3 linked regions of the Homo sapiens genome follow. The protein of the gene in region 3 purifies or fractionates together with the protein of the main gene of each other region. This does not show direct contact. Each region holds a gene or a part of one and is shown on either strand. Other genes may lie near its edges. The genes, in order: ZER1, UBR1 and MRM1.

Region 1 (3,746 bases), on a different chromosome or scaffold from region 3:
CCTGGTGTTTAATAGAACAAAGGTTTGCTGTGGCTGGAATTCCCTTACTCTAGTACTGCAAGATAGAGATTATTACCCCATTTTCTGATGAAGATACTGACGCATACACAACTAAGCAGAAGCTTGCCTGAGATCACAAAACTGATGAGAGTGGGATGCAAACCTAAAGCAGACCCCCGCTTCTCACCAAATATTTGGTCTTCAGTCCATCCATCCAAACAATGGGAGGGAAAGAGAAACTGAAGTCTGGAGGTGGGAGCATGGGATCCCACCAGTGTCCTGATACCCAGAGGACAGAGAGGTTGGGGGAGCCAGAAGCTCTGAGCCTTGGAGCAGTACTCACCCTGTGAAATATTAACCTAGGAGCTGGGGGGAAAACCCAAACAAATGCCCTATTTACAGAGGCTAGACGCTTTCCAGGAGGCAGCAGATCAAGGGCCAGAGACTGGGGGTGTGAGGGGAGTCACAGCAAGTGTGGGGATCTCCAGGTGGTCGGGAAACAGGTGAAAACCAGACGCCACCTGGCTCTGAAAAGTCTGCAGAGATTAAATCTATGAGTTGGGTTATGTCAGAAAGATGCAGACACACAATAATTGGGGAGTGTGCCTCACAGCTAGGTGGCTGCTCATGATGCTGGAGACAGAGAGGCCTTGAGGAGGCTGCATTCGGCTAGTAATCAGACTGGTTGGGTTCTATTCTTGTAACCAAATGTATTAATGATCCTACCCATACTGAATACCAAGTATATACCAAGAATTCTGGCTGGGCGTGGAGGCTCACGCCTCTAATCCCAGCACTTTGGGAGGCCAAGGCGGGCGGATCACGAGGTGAAGAGATTGAGACCATCCTGGCCAACATGGTGAAACCCTGTCTCTACTAAAAATACAAAAATTAGCAGGGCGTGGTGGCGGGCGCCTATAGTCCCAGCTACTCAGGAGGCTGAGACAGGAGAATTGCTTGAACCCGGGAGGTGGAGGTTCCAGTGAGCCAAGATTGCACCACTGTACTCCAGCCTGGCAACAGAGCAAGATTCCATCTCAAAAAAAAAAAAAAAAAAAGAACTCTGTTAAGTATTTTATATGTGTTAATTAATTGAATTCTCTCAACACCCAACAAGGCAGGAGTTACCATCTACAACTTACAGAAAAGGCAGCTGGAAGGAAGGGGCTATGGCTATGCAATTTGCCAGAGACTATGGATCTGAACAGACAGATATGTACACAGGTAGTTCATTAGTTCAAGACGCAGTGTGTCAGGCTGGGCACAGTGGCCTACGCCTGTAATCCCAGCACTTTGGGAGGCCAAGGCAGGTGGATCACCTGAGGTCAGGAGTTCGAGCCCAGCCTGGCCAACATGGTGAAACTCCATCTCTATTAAAAATACAAAAATTAGCCAGGCATGGTGGCGGATGCCTGTAATCCCAGCTACTTAGGAGGCTGAAGCAGGAGAATCGCTTGAACCTAGGAGGCAGAGGTTGCAGTGAGCCGAGATTGCACCACTGCACTCCTGCCTGGGTGACAGAGCAAGATTCCGTCTCAAAAAAAAAAAAAAAAAAAAAAAGACCCAGTGTGTCCAGCTTTCCAAGCAGTTCGCATCAAAGTCACAGATAACTTATTTATTTATTTATTTATTTTTCTTTCTTTTTTTTTTTGAGATGGAATTTTGCTCTTGTTGCCCAAGCTGGAGTGCAATGGCACAATCTCGGCTCACTGCAGCCTCTGCCTCCTGGGTTCAGGCAATTCTCCTGCCTCAGCCAACCAAGTAGCTGGGATTACAGGTGCCCGCCACCATGCCAGGCTAATTTTTGTATTTTTAGTAGAGACAGGGTTTTGCCATGTTGGCCAGGCTGGTCTCGAACTCCTGACCTCAGGTGATCCACCTGCCTCGGCCTCCCAAAGTGCTGGGATTACAGGTGTGAGCCACTGCGGTCGGCCTATTTATTTATTTTTCTTTTAAGAGACAGGGTCTCACTCTGTCACCCAGGCTGGAGTGCAGTGGTACGATCTCAGCTCGCTGCAACCTCCACCTCTCACGTTCAAGCAATCTCCCACCTCAGCCTCTGGAGTAGCTGTGACTACAGACGTATACCAACAGACCTGGCTAATTTTTTTATTTTTTGTAGCGATGAGGGCTCACCATGTTGCCCAGGCTTGTCTCAAACTCCTGGGCTCAAGCAATACGCCCACCTCAGCCTCCCAAAGTGCTGGATTACAGGTGTGAGCCACCGCACCCAGCTGCCACAGATAACATTTTATCAATATGATAATACATTATCATTTTGTTTCCCAGATAAGGAAACAATGGTTGAAAGATGAGCAATGAGTTGTTCCTCCGGTAAGTGTGTGACCCTAAAGTTCGAGCCCCTTGCCATTATGCTATGGGGAGGGACCATTTCTCCAACCTCAGCTTTCCCTTCTGTTCCACGAGCCTCCGCCGCTTCCTTACAACTCAGGCACTGAGCTCACATGATCCAGTACTGCTGGTAACCACTCCGTGGCATGTCATTTTTTGGCCACAGCATTGAAAGCTTCCTGAGGGCAGGGACCCTATGTGATTTCTGGGGTCTCCATTACAGAGTATGTGAGTGGCTCAATGCCAGTGACAGGGCCTCGGCTCCACAAGATCCCCAGCCAATGTTTTCCAGCCTCAATATTTATCAAGGTCCTTACCTGTCAGCATGTTGCGAGTGGCACACGCTGTGTTGCGCGTGTTGTGAACAGGGTTGCTGAGGAGATGCCATGAAAGGATGGCAGGAAGGTGGTAACCAATAATTATGAAGAGTGATGTTCCTGAGAATAATGCTTCAAGAGACCCTTCTGCATCTCTGAAGCTGGAAAATCAGTTTCAGCGATTGCGCCAGATATAAGACAGTGGTCCACAAATAGATAACCAGACAGGGGTCTCTGCACTCACCTCTCAGGACTCCAGAACAGATGAGGTACTGAAGCCAAGCAAAAAAACCAGAGTGCCAAGAGCAGTCTTCCAGCTAGTGGGCCCCCAAAACGTGTCTGCATAATCCTAGTGGTACTAATGATAATACCTTTGTAGAGAGCTTCAGAACACACCTAATTCTTTCACAAGCTGTGTCTCATTTCATCCTCCCAACAGCCTTTAGAGTTAGTCGGAGGCAAGGGAAGGCCATTATTCTTAATCTACAAATAGGAAAACTGAGGCCCAGAGAGGAGATGGAACCTGCCTAACTCACACAGCAAGCCAACAGCAGAGCCGGGATTTGAACCAGGTCCGCAGGTCACCAGCCTGGGGTTCTACCCACAACAGCCTACCCCAACATGCTGGCTCTCAGCTCCTAAGTGCTCTGACCTTTCATTTTCAAATTCTCTGGCCCAGTTGCCCTGCTCAGCCTGTGTCCCAGGCCTGAGGATATAGTCCGGGCTTGGGGTATAAGGAGGGAGATCAACTGTGGTTCTGCTTCCTATAAAGCAGGCTGGAAAGTCTCAGCCTCTGCCGGGCACTTCCGGATCACCAGCCTCTACCCGTAGATCAGCCACGCACACTCCAACCACATATCTAGGCCCAGCATACACTGCCCCTCCCCACCTGTCTCCAAGTCACATTCATTTCAACACCCTCATTTTGCCTATTTTACGTGGTAGAATGGAAATTTGCTGGGCTCATTTTAATTCTTTTTTTTTTAGAGATAGGGTTTCCCTATGTTCTCCAGACTGGTCTCAAACTCCTGGCCTCAAGCGATCCTCCCAAAGCGCTGGCAGTGCTGGGCTCTTTTT
Region 2 (3,746 bases), on a different chromosome or scaffold from region 3:
ACGTCTCCAAAAAAACAAAAAAAAAAAGTTCCCCTACAGATATGAGATTATGGGTACATTTTTCTTTGATTTCCATAATGATTATTGCGTAACCATAACAATATTAAACTTTTAAAAAATCCTCCCATTTCAGCAGGAGACAACTTTGGGAAATAACAGAAATATTCTATAACCTGATTTGGTGGTAGTCACACAAGTATATACATTTGTTAAAATTTATCCAAGAAACGCCTTAAATGGGTACATTTTATTGTATGTAAATTATATCTCAATAATGTTAATATCTCTTAACATTCTCAGCTTCTATTACCCCCACTTCCTCTCTACCTCAGTGTCTTCTCATTCATTCATTCATTCATACATTCAATAAAAACTTTGAAGCAATGTGCTAGAAACTAGATACAGCTGTGAACAAGCAACAGTTCAGGCCTTCAAGAACTTCACTGTCTAGAAGGAAAGACACATAGTAAACAGGTAACGTAGAGTACAGTCTGAGACACGCTACATAAAACCATAAAACAGGAGTATAGAAAGGGTGCTATAGGAACACACAAGAGGTGCCTCTTTTTTTTTTTTTTAGACGGAGTCTCACTCTGTCGCCCAGACTGGAGTGCAGTGGTGTGATCTCAGCTCACTGCAAGCTCCGCCTCCCAGGTTCACGCCATTCTCCTGCCTCAGCCTCCTGAGTAGCTGGGACTACAGGCGCCCGCCATCATGCCCGGCTAATTTTTTGTATTTTTAGTTGAGAAGGGGTTTCACCATGTTAGCCAGGACGGTCTCGATCTCCTGACCTCATAATAAACCCACCTCGGCCTCCCAAAGTGCTGGGATTACAGGCATGAGCCACTGCACCAGGCCAAGAGGTGCCTTTAACCTGGCTCTACCATCACAAAAACTTGATGTGCCCCCATGTACTCAAATTCTAAAATGCCCCTTTCTGACCACAAAGTTCAGTCCTCCCACTTATGTCAACCTCATGCCCTTTAACACCTCAATCCCACCAATTCCCTCCAGATTTCCTGTTTTGGCTTTTATTACCTCCCTGTTCAGCCTGGACTCGAAGGTTAGCCACTACCCTAACATGCCGGCTCATTCCCTTTTTTCTATCTACAACCTCCATCCACCAATCACTACTAATCTTACTACAATAAATCATTAATGTTGATCCTCAGTTATTCATTCATTTAAAAATATTTAAGTGTCTTCTGTATCAATCACATACCAAGATACATCAATGTGGCCAGGCATGGTGGCTCATACCTGTAATCCCAGCAGTTTGGGAGGCTGAGGCAGATGGATCATGAGGTCAAGAGATCGAGACCATCCTGGCCAACATGGTGAAACCCCGTCTCTACTAAAAACACAAAAATTAGCTGGGCATGGTGGCATGCCCCTGTAGTCCCAGCTACTCAGGAGGCTGAGGCAGGAGAATCGCTTGAATCCGGGAGGCGGAGGTTGCAGTGAGCCGAGATCGCACCACGCACTCCAGCCTGGCGACAGAGCGAGACTCCGTCTCAAAAAAAAAGATGCATCAATGAACAAGTCACACATGATCCTTCCCTTCATGGAACTTACCTCTCCCTCTGGAGGAAGAAACAGACATTTTGCTAAGTAAATAAAGACAATACAGTAATTACAGATTGTAATAATTGAAATGGGAGAAATAAACAGGTTGCTTTGACAGAGAATAAGAGGAACCCATCTTTTAGACAGAGTGTGTATTAAGAAAAAGCAGAGGAAGAACACTCTAGGAAAAGCAAACAGCAAGCAACAGCACAGACCCTAAAGCAAAATACAGCTTGGGCTTGTACTAACAGGCCAGGATGAGTGAGGAGAATGTAACAGGAAATGAGGTGGAGATGCAGGGGCTGGACCAGGCAAAGTCTTGAAGGCTTGTAATGAGTTTATAAGTATAAGAGAAAGCCACTGAGGATTTAGGTAGGAGACTGACATGATCTCATTTAATCTTTAAAAGATTACTCTGGTTGTTCTGTGCAGAATGGACAGGAAGAGGGCAACAGTGGAAGCAAACAGACCAGTTAGGAAGTCACTGCAGTAGCCAAGACAACAGAGAGTGACTTGGACTACATGGGTGGAGACAGAATTATTTGTCTTCAAGAGCTATGATGGAGGTGCTGTCTACTGAGACAGGGACAACAAAACTCTTGATCTGCCTTTCTCCTTTCCTCTCCTAAAATCTTGTCTTTCCTCTCAATATATGACACAACCAAGGCCAGGTGCGATGGCTCACATCTGTAATCCCAGCAACTGGGGAGGCCGAGGTGGGTGGATCACTTGAGGTCGGGAGTTCGAGACCAGGCTGGCCAATATGGTGAAACCCCACCTCTACTAAAAATACAAAAAAACTGGCTGGGCACGGTGGCTCATGCCTATAATCCCAGCAATTTGGGAGGCTGAGGTGGGCGGCTTGCCTGAGGTCAGGAGTTCAAGACCAACCTGGCCAACATGGTGAAACCCCTCTCTTTACTAAAAATACAAAAATTAACCAGGCGTGGTGGCAGGCACCTGTAATCCCAGCTACTTGGAAGGTTGAGGCAGGAGAATCGCTTGAACCCGGGAGGTAGAGGTTTCAGTGAGCCGAGATCTCGCCACGCACTCCAGCCTTGGCGACAGAGAGAGACCTTGGCTCACAAAAAAAAAAAAAAAAAAAAAAAAAGCCAGGCATGGTGGTGCATGCCTGTAATTCCAGCTACTCGGGAGGCTGAGGCAAGAGAATCACTTGAACTTGGGACAAAGAGGTTGCAATGAGCCGAGATCATACCGCTGGAAACAACACAACCGCTGCCATGAATGCTTAAACCAAAAACTGAGGATGCAGATATCATCTATTCCTTACCTTTTGCCTCATGCCTAATCTATCAGCAAGTCTTTTTGCTTCTTCCATCCTTCTAAAATCTTTCTCACATTCATCCTCTTCACTCTATCTCCAAGGATAACCTTTCCAGTGCAAGCTACCATCAACTATGGCTTGGGTTACAGCAGCAACTTCTTAATTGCTCCCACTGTTTGAAACACCAGACATCCAAGTGAAGATGTCAAGTAGGCAGTTGGATTTATGATTCTGGAGTTCAGAAGTGAGATGACACAGAGATATAAATTTGGGAACTGAATACATACAAATGGTATTTAAAGTCACAGAACTAGATGAAATCCCCTAGGTAGAGGTTATAAACAGGCAATAGAAAAGAGCTGAGTATCATGCCAAGAGGTATCTTCTGAAATTGACTTAAGGAAGAAAATCTAGTCGAGGAAGACAGAAGGCAGAAGTTCTGGCAGACTACCTCACAAGTCTCTTGATTCCCAATTTTTCTCAGTCCTCATTATCATGGACCCAATAAACCACCCTCTCAAAATAATACCCCATGCCATCACACTACTCTCACCTCCTACGTGCTTGCCTATTGTTTCCACGTTCTTACCTCATTCTTCCATTTTCCACCCGTTTCAATCATTCCTGTTCTCTCTTTCTCATCATCTCTGTCTCACTCTCTTTTCCTCTGTGTGTGTGTATATATATGCACACATTTTCCTCCTCAAAGATCTTATCCGGGCTGGGCGTAGTGGCTCACGCCTGTAATCCCACCACTTTGGGAGGCCAAGGCAGATGGATCACTTGAGGTCAGGAGTTCGAGACCAGCCTGGCCATATGGCAAAACCCTGTCTCTACTAAAAATACAAAAATCAGCCAGGTGTGGTGGAACACACCTGTAATTCCAGCTACTTGG
Region 3 (3,746 bases):
GGAAATTTCTCACCCTGCAGTTGGGGTGGGGGTTGGGGGGGGTATGGTCAGAGGGGATTCCATATGCAGAGCAATACTGCCTCCTTGTGTCCAGCAAGGGAAGCACAGCTGAAGACAAACGGATGGGAGAGGGGTTTCCAAGGTTTGTCTCTTGCTAGATACTAATGGCATAAAGATCTTCTTGTTCAAACATCCTTTCAAGCTGTGCCCTATTCGAGGAACTCAGGTCTCCTGTACGCAGCTCCCCACAGCTGAACAAAATGCATTTACTGAAGCCCGACCTAGTAGGCAAATAGACACTGAGGCTGACTTACAGAAGAGGCAAAGTGGTGCATACCTGGGGAAGGGGTGCAGGAAAGGGTATAACGCTAGGAAGAATTCAGCTAATGCTCCATTTGCCGTTTTAAAAACTCCAGGACCCTTCCATCCCCAGAGGGATTTAGAAGGCCAAAGGAAGCGGTGCCAACATGCCCCTTTCTCTCCCTCGCCAGGGGCTAGCTTCGTCCCCTTGAAGAGGCTGAGCTGGGCTCACATCTGTTCCTTCCCCTCTTGCCCCTCATTACCTGTAAAAATCCGGTGAGGTCATCAGTGGAGAACACGTCCATCACCTCCATAGCCCCCGCGCTGGACTTGCTGACTACTGGAGTGAGCGGGCAGCTGCAAGGTTTCCCCGTTCCCCGCATTAGGCTGGGCCATCTCAAGCCCGGCTCCCTACCCTCCCAGGGCTCCCAAGGGCTAGGGGGATGAGAGTTCTGGGACAGGTAAGTCTGGCTAAGGGATCACCCAAGGGCCAAGGTGCTTAGGAACTCGGCTGCGTCTCCAAGTTGGGGCACATAGAGAATGAGGGACGTCCGTGCCTGTTTCTCCGGCTGGTGATGACCTTATCCACTCCGAGGAAGTGTGCGGAACGCAGCACAGCCCCAAAATTCCGGGGATCCTGGATCCCATCGAGGACGAGCCACAACTGCTGGGGGTCGTCGCCTGGGCTCGCCTCCCCGGCCTCTCTCCAAGGCCGGGGCCGCAGCGGGCTCACCTCCATGCAGACACCCTGGTGGACCTGGTAGCGGCACATTGTGTCCAGTTTCTGCCGTCTGGGCCGCAGAACTGGAATGTCCCGCGCCTCGGCCATCCGGAGCAGCTCGGCCCGCTTCCCCTGCAGCCCAGCTTTACCCGCCTGGAGCAGGAGCCGGGCCACAGAGCGGCGGGCGGCCTGCAGAGCCAGGAGACACGGGGTCATGCCAAACAGAAGCTCCAGCCGAGAGGTCGGCACCAGGTCATCCAGCAGCAAGCGGCTTAGCTCCTCCCCACCAGGCCGCTCCCCATGCCGCGCTGCATGGGAGAAATGACGGGTGACGAGGCGACCCCAGGTCGCGCCCCGGACGGTCGAGAGCAATGCCATGGCGCAGCTCCCGCCAGGGACTCGATGCCCCTTGCTGCGTCCCCGGGAGCGGTAACCCGCGCCGCAGTTCGCTCCCAGGCTCCCAACACCGAGGTGAAGGGTACTCGACAGCCGTCTCCGCCGAGCTCTCTCGGACAGGAACAAACAGCCCCGATTACCCACAACTGGACTACCGAGCTACGACCACCCGCTCCCAGGCTCCCACGTGGGTCCCTCGCTTCCGGGTTCGGGAGCCCGCCCCTCCCCGGCCCCTTCCTGACGGTGTTTTGCGCATGCGTGGCTGCCAGGCTGTCCCCCACAGCGCCTCCCTCAAGGCTAGAGGAGCGGCGAGCTGAGCTGGCCGTACTACCGGCTGCGTCCTGTGTTCCTCGAGGTCCCAGGAGGCCGGGGACCGCATTCACCCACGCACCAGTGAAGGGCCCTTTAAGGAGATGGGTTGGCCTTCCTGGTCAACCAATTCAGTCTTGTTGCCTCCCTCCCCACATCCCGGCGCTGGTGATTTTTCCCAGAACTTCTCACTAGCCCATCACCAGCCAGCAGGACCCCAACAGTCACTTCCTATCCCGGGCCGCTGATTCTCTTCCTAAGTGACTCTGAGCCTGTCGTGTTCCTGCTGACAAGCTCACTAACGCCCCCGTCCCACAGGTAATGGCGAGACTCTTGCGCAGCACTCAGCCCCCCAGCGATCCAGGAAGGCAGGAAGGAGCTGCCTCTTCAGCCCCATCTGGCTCCTTGCTCCTGTGCTTAAGTTCTGAGCTGTTCGCACAGCACTGCATGCTCTTCCAGACCTCTCAGCCTTGCACACCTGTCTTCGCTTTGTCAAACTCCTACATGTTTTCAAGGCCCAAACAAACCCATTCCTGCTACCTAAGGTAATCCATACTCCCATGAGTGAGGCCCCCAATCCACCCACCTGGGACCTACCTGGAAGAAATTCTGAGACACAAGCACCCCTGATCACAGAGAAGGGGAAAGAATGGAAAGACACTCCTGAAGCCAAGGCAGATTGGTTGCGATTTTTCTTTTTTAATGATCACCATGAAATCCACTGGGCCAGGCCCTGGTGTTCTGCTGCCATAGTCAGAGTCAGAGTGGAGGGATGACCCCAGGAGGGGACAAGAAGCCAAGACTGGGCTGGGGAGCCGAGAAGGAGATAGATAAGGGGGAGAGGGTGCAGTGGGGCAGGCAGAGGAGGAAGTCTGGAGCCCTGGATAACAACACAGATATAAGGTGAAGGCCTCCCTCTGCCACCCCAGCCCTGAGCCACAGACGTTGAGGTGCAAGAAGATGGGGATTTTGGCCACAACTCCTTTCCCATGTCAAAGGGAAGACACTGAGAGCAGACAAAGGCCAAGTGCCCAGGGGCACAAGAACAAGTTAACAAGTAAAACAATTAGGGACACCACCTCCTTTCCCCAGCCCATTTTTCACATTTACAACTGAAGCAATTTGACAAGATGATATAAAAATCTCAAACAAATTTTCTAGCCCCTGGTCGGGGTGTGGACAGGAAGTGGTATCCCGTGATCCAGAAATCAACACCTAAAATCCAGAGGCAGGAGGCAAGCCATGAAGGGTGGGGAGGGAAGGAGGAGCTCCCACAGTCACTAGGTCACCTGCTCCGTGGGCCTCATCTGGATGTCTCCAATCTGTGGAAGGTACAAGGCATGAGGCAGCTGTGACACTCTCCCCTGGCCCTGCAGGGCTCCCTGCTCCCCTCCTCTGGGGCTGGTTGGGTTCCTCCAGTGAGTAGACAGTCAGGGCCAGACTCACCTGGATGTGTGCGGGGGTGCTGAGGACGTAGATAACAGCCTCGGCCACATCCTCGGGTTTGAGACACTGAGAGCACCAGGGGAATGGGTTGAGACAAGGACAGAATGGACTCAAATTCCCTCCCACCACTGAGCTTCTCTGTGGCATCCACACATCCACCCCAACCCTCCAGGAGGAGCCACAAAGGCTGGAAGAGTGGAGTCTGAAGGCCGAGCTTCCCTCTGCCTTCATTTAGGGAGTCAGTGGCTTCACCAGGCTCAGAGGGAGGCCCCACCTTCATTTGCTCATAGGTGGCAGCTGCCTTCTCAGGGTCCTTGTCGTGGAGTTTGAAGGCGAATTGTGTCTCCACCACACCTGGAGAGATGCACTGGGCCAACAGAGAGGGCCTTCTCAGGGGCTGAGCTTTGCCAGGTCTTGGGGAGGTCGAGGGGAGAGGATGGAGGCCACAGAACCCCAGCTTCACAGTGATGGCTGCCTGATATCCGGCAGCGGCCTCCTCCCTCCGAAGCTGCCACTGGCAGTGACCACAATGATACCTACCATCTACAGAGCCTTTCCTATATGTCAGGTAAAC

The links.
Region 1: the proteins of MRM1 (region 3) and ZER1 purify together in Homo sapiens (affinity purification with mass spectrometry; 4 studies listed by BioGRID and IntAct, with this or other methods). This does not show direct contact.
Region 2: the proteins of MRM1 (region 3) and UBR1 purify together in Homo sapiens (affinity purification with mass spectrometry; 4 studies listed by BioGRID and IntAct, with this or other methods). This does not show direct contact.

The regions. Positions count from the first base shown.
Region 1 is NC_000009.12:128,765,309-128,769,054, forward strand, and holds part of ZER1 (protein zer-1 homolog), read right to left. Parts: intron 1-3,746. UniProt on the Homo sapiens protein: Serves as substrate adapter subunit in the E3 ubiquitin ligase complex ZYG11B-CUL2-Elongin BC. Acts to target substrates bearing N-terminal degrons for proteasomal degradation with the first four residues of substrates being the key recognition elements.
Region 2 is NC_000015.10:43,099,317-43,103,062, forward strand, and holds part of UBR1 (E3 ubiquitin-protein ligase UBR1), read right to left. Parts: intron 1-3,746. UniProt on the Homo sapiens protein: E3 ubiquitin-protein ligase which is a component of the N-end rule pathway. Recognizes and binds proteins bearing specific N-terminal residues that are destabilizing according to the N-end rule, leading to their ubiquitination and subsequent degradation.
Region 3 is NC_000017.11:36,599,464-36,603,209, reverse strand, and holds the start of MRM1 (rRNA methyltransferase 1, mitochondrial precursor), read right to left. Parts: upstream 1,628-3,746; 5' UTR 1,400-1,627; coding exon 858-1,399; intron 658-857; coding exon 564-657; intron 282-563; coding exon of another isoform or gene 267-281; exon of another isoform or gene 1-266. Other genes in the region: DHRS11 (dehydrogenase/reductase SDR family member 11 precursor), read right to left, coding at 3,007-3,048, 3,173-3,238, 3,447-3,539. UniProt on the Homo sapiens protein: S-adenosyl-L-methionine-dependent 2'-O-ribose methyltransferase that catalyzes the formation of 2'-O-methylguanosine at position 1145 (Gm1145) in the 16S mitochondrial large subunit ribosomal RNA (mtLSU rRNA), a universally conserved modification in the peptidyl transferase domain of the mtLSU rRNA.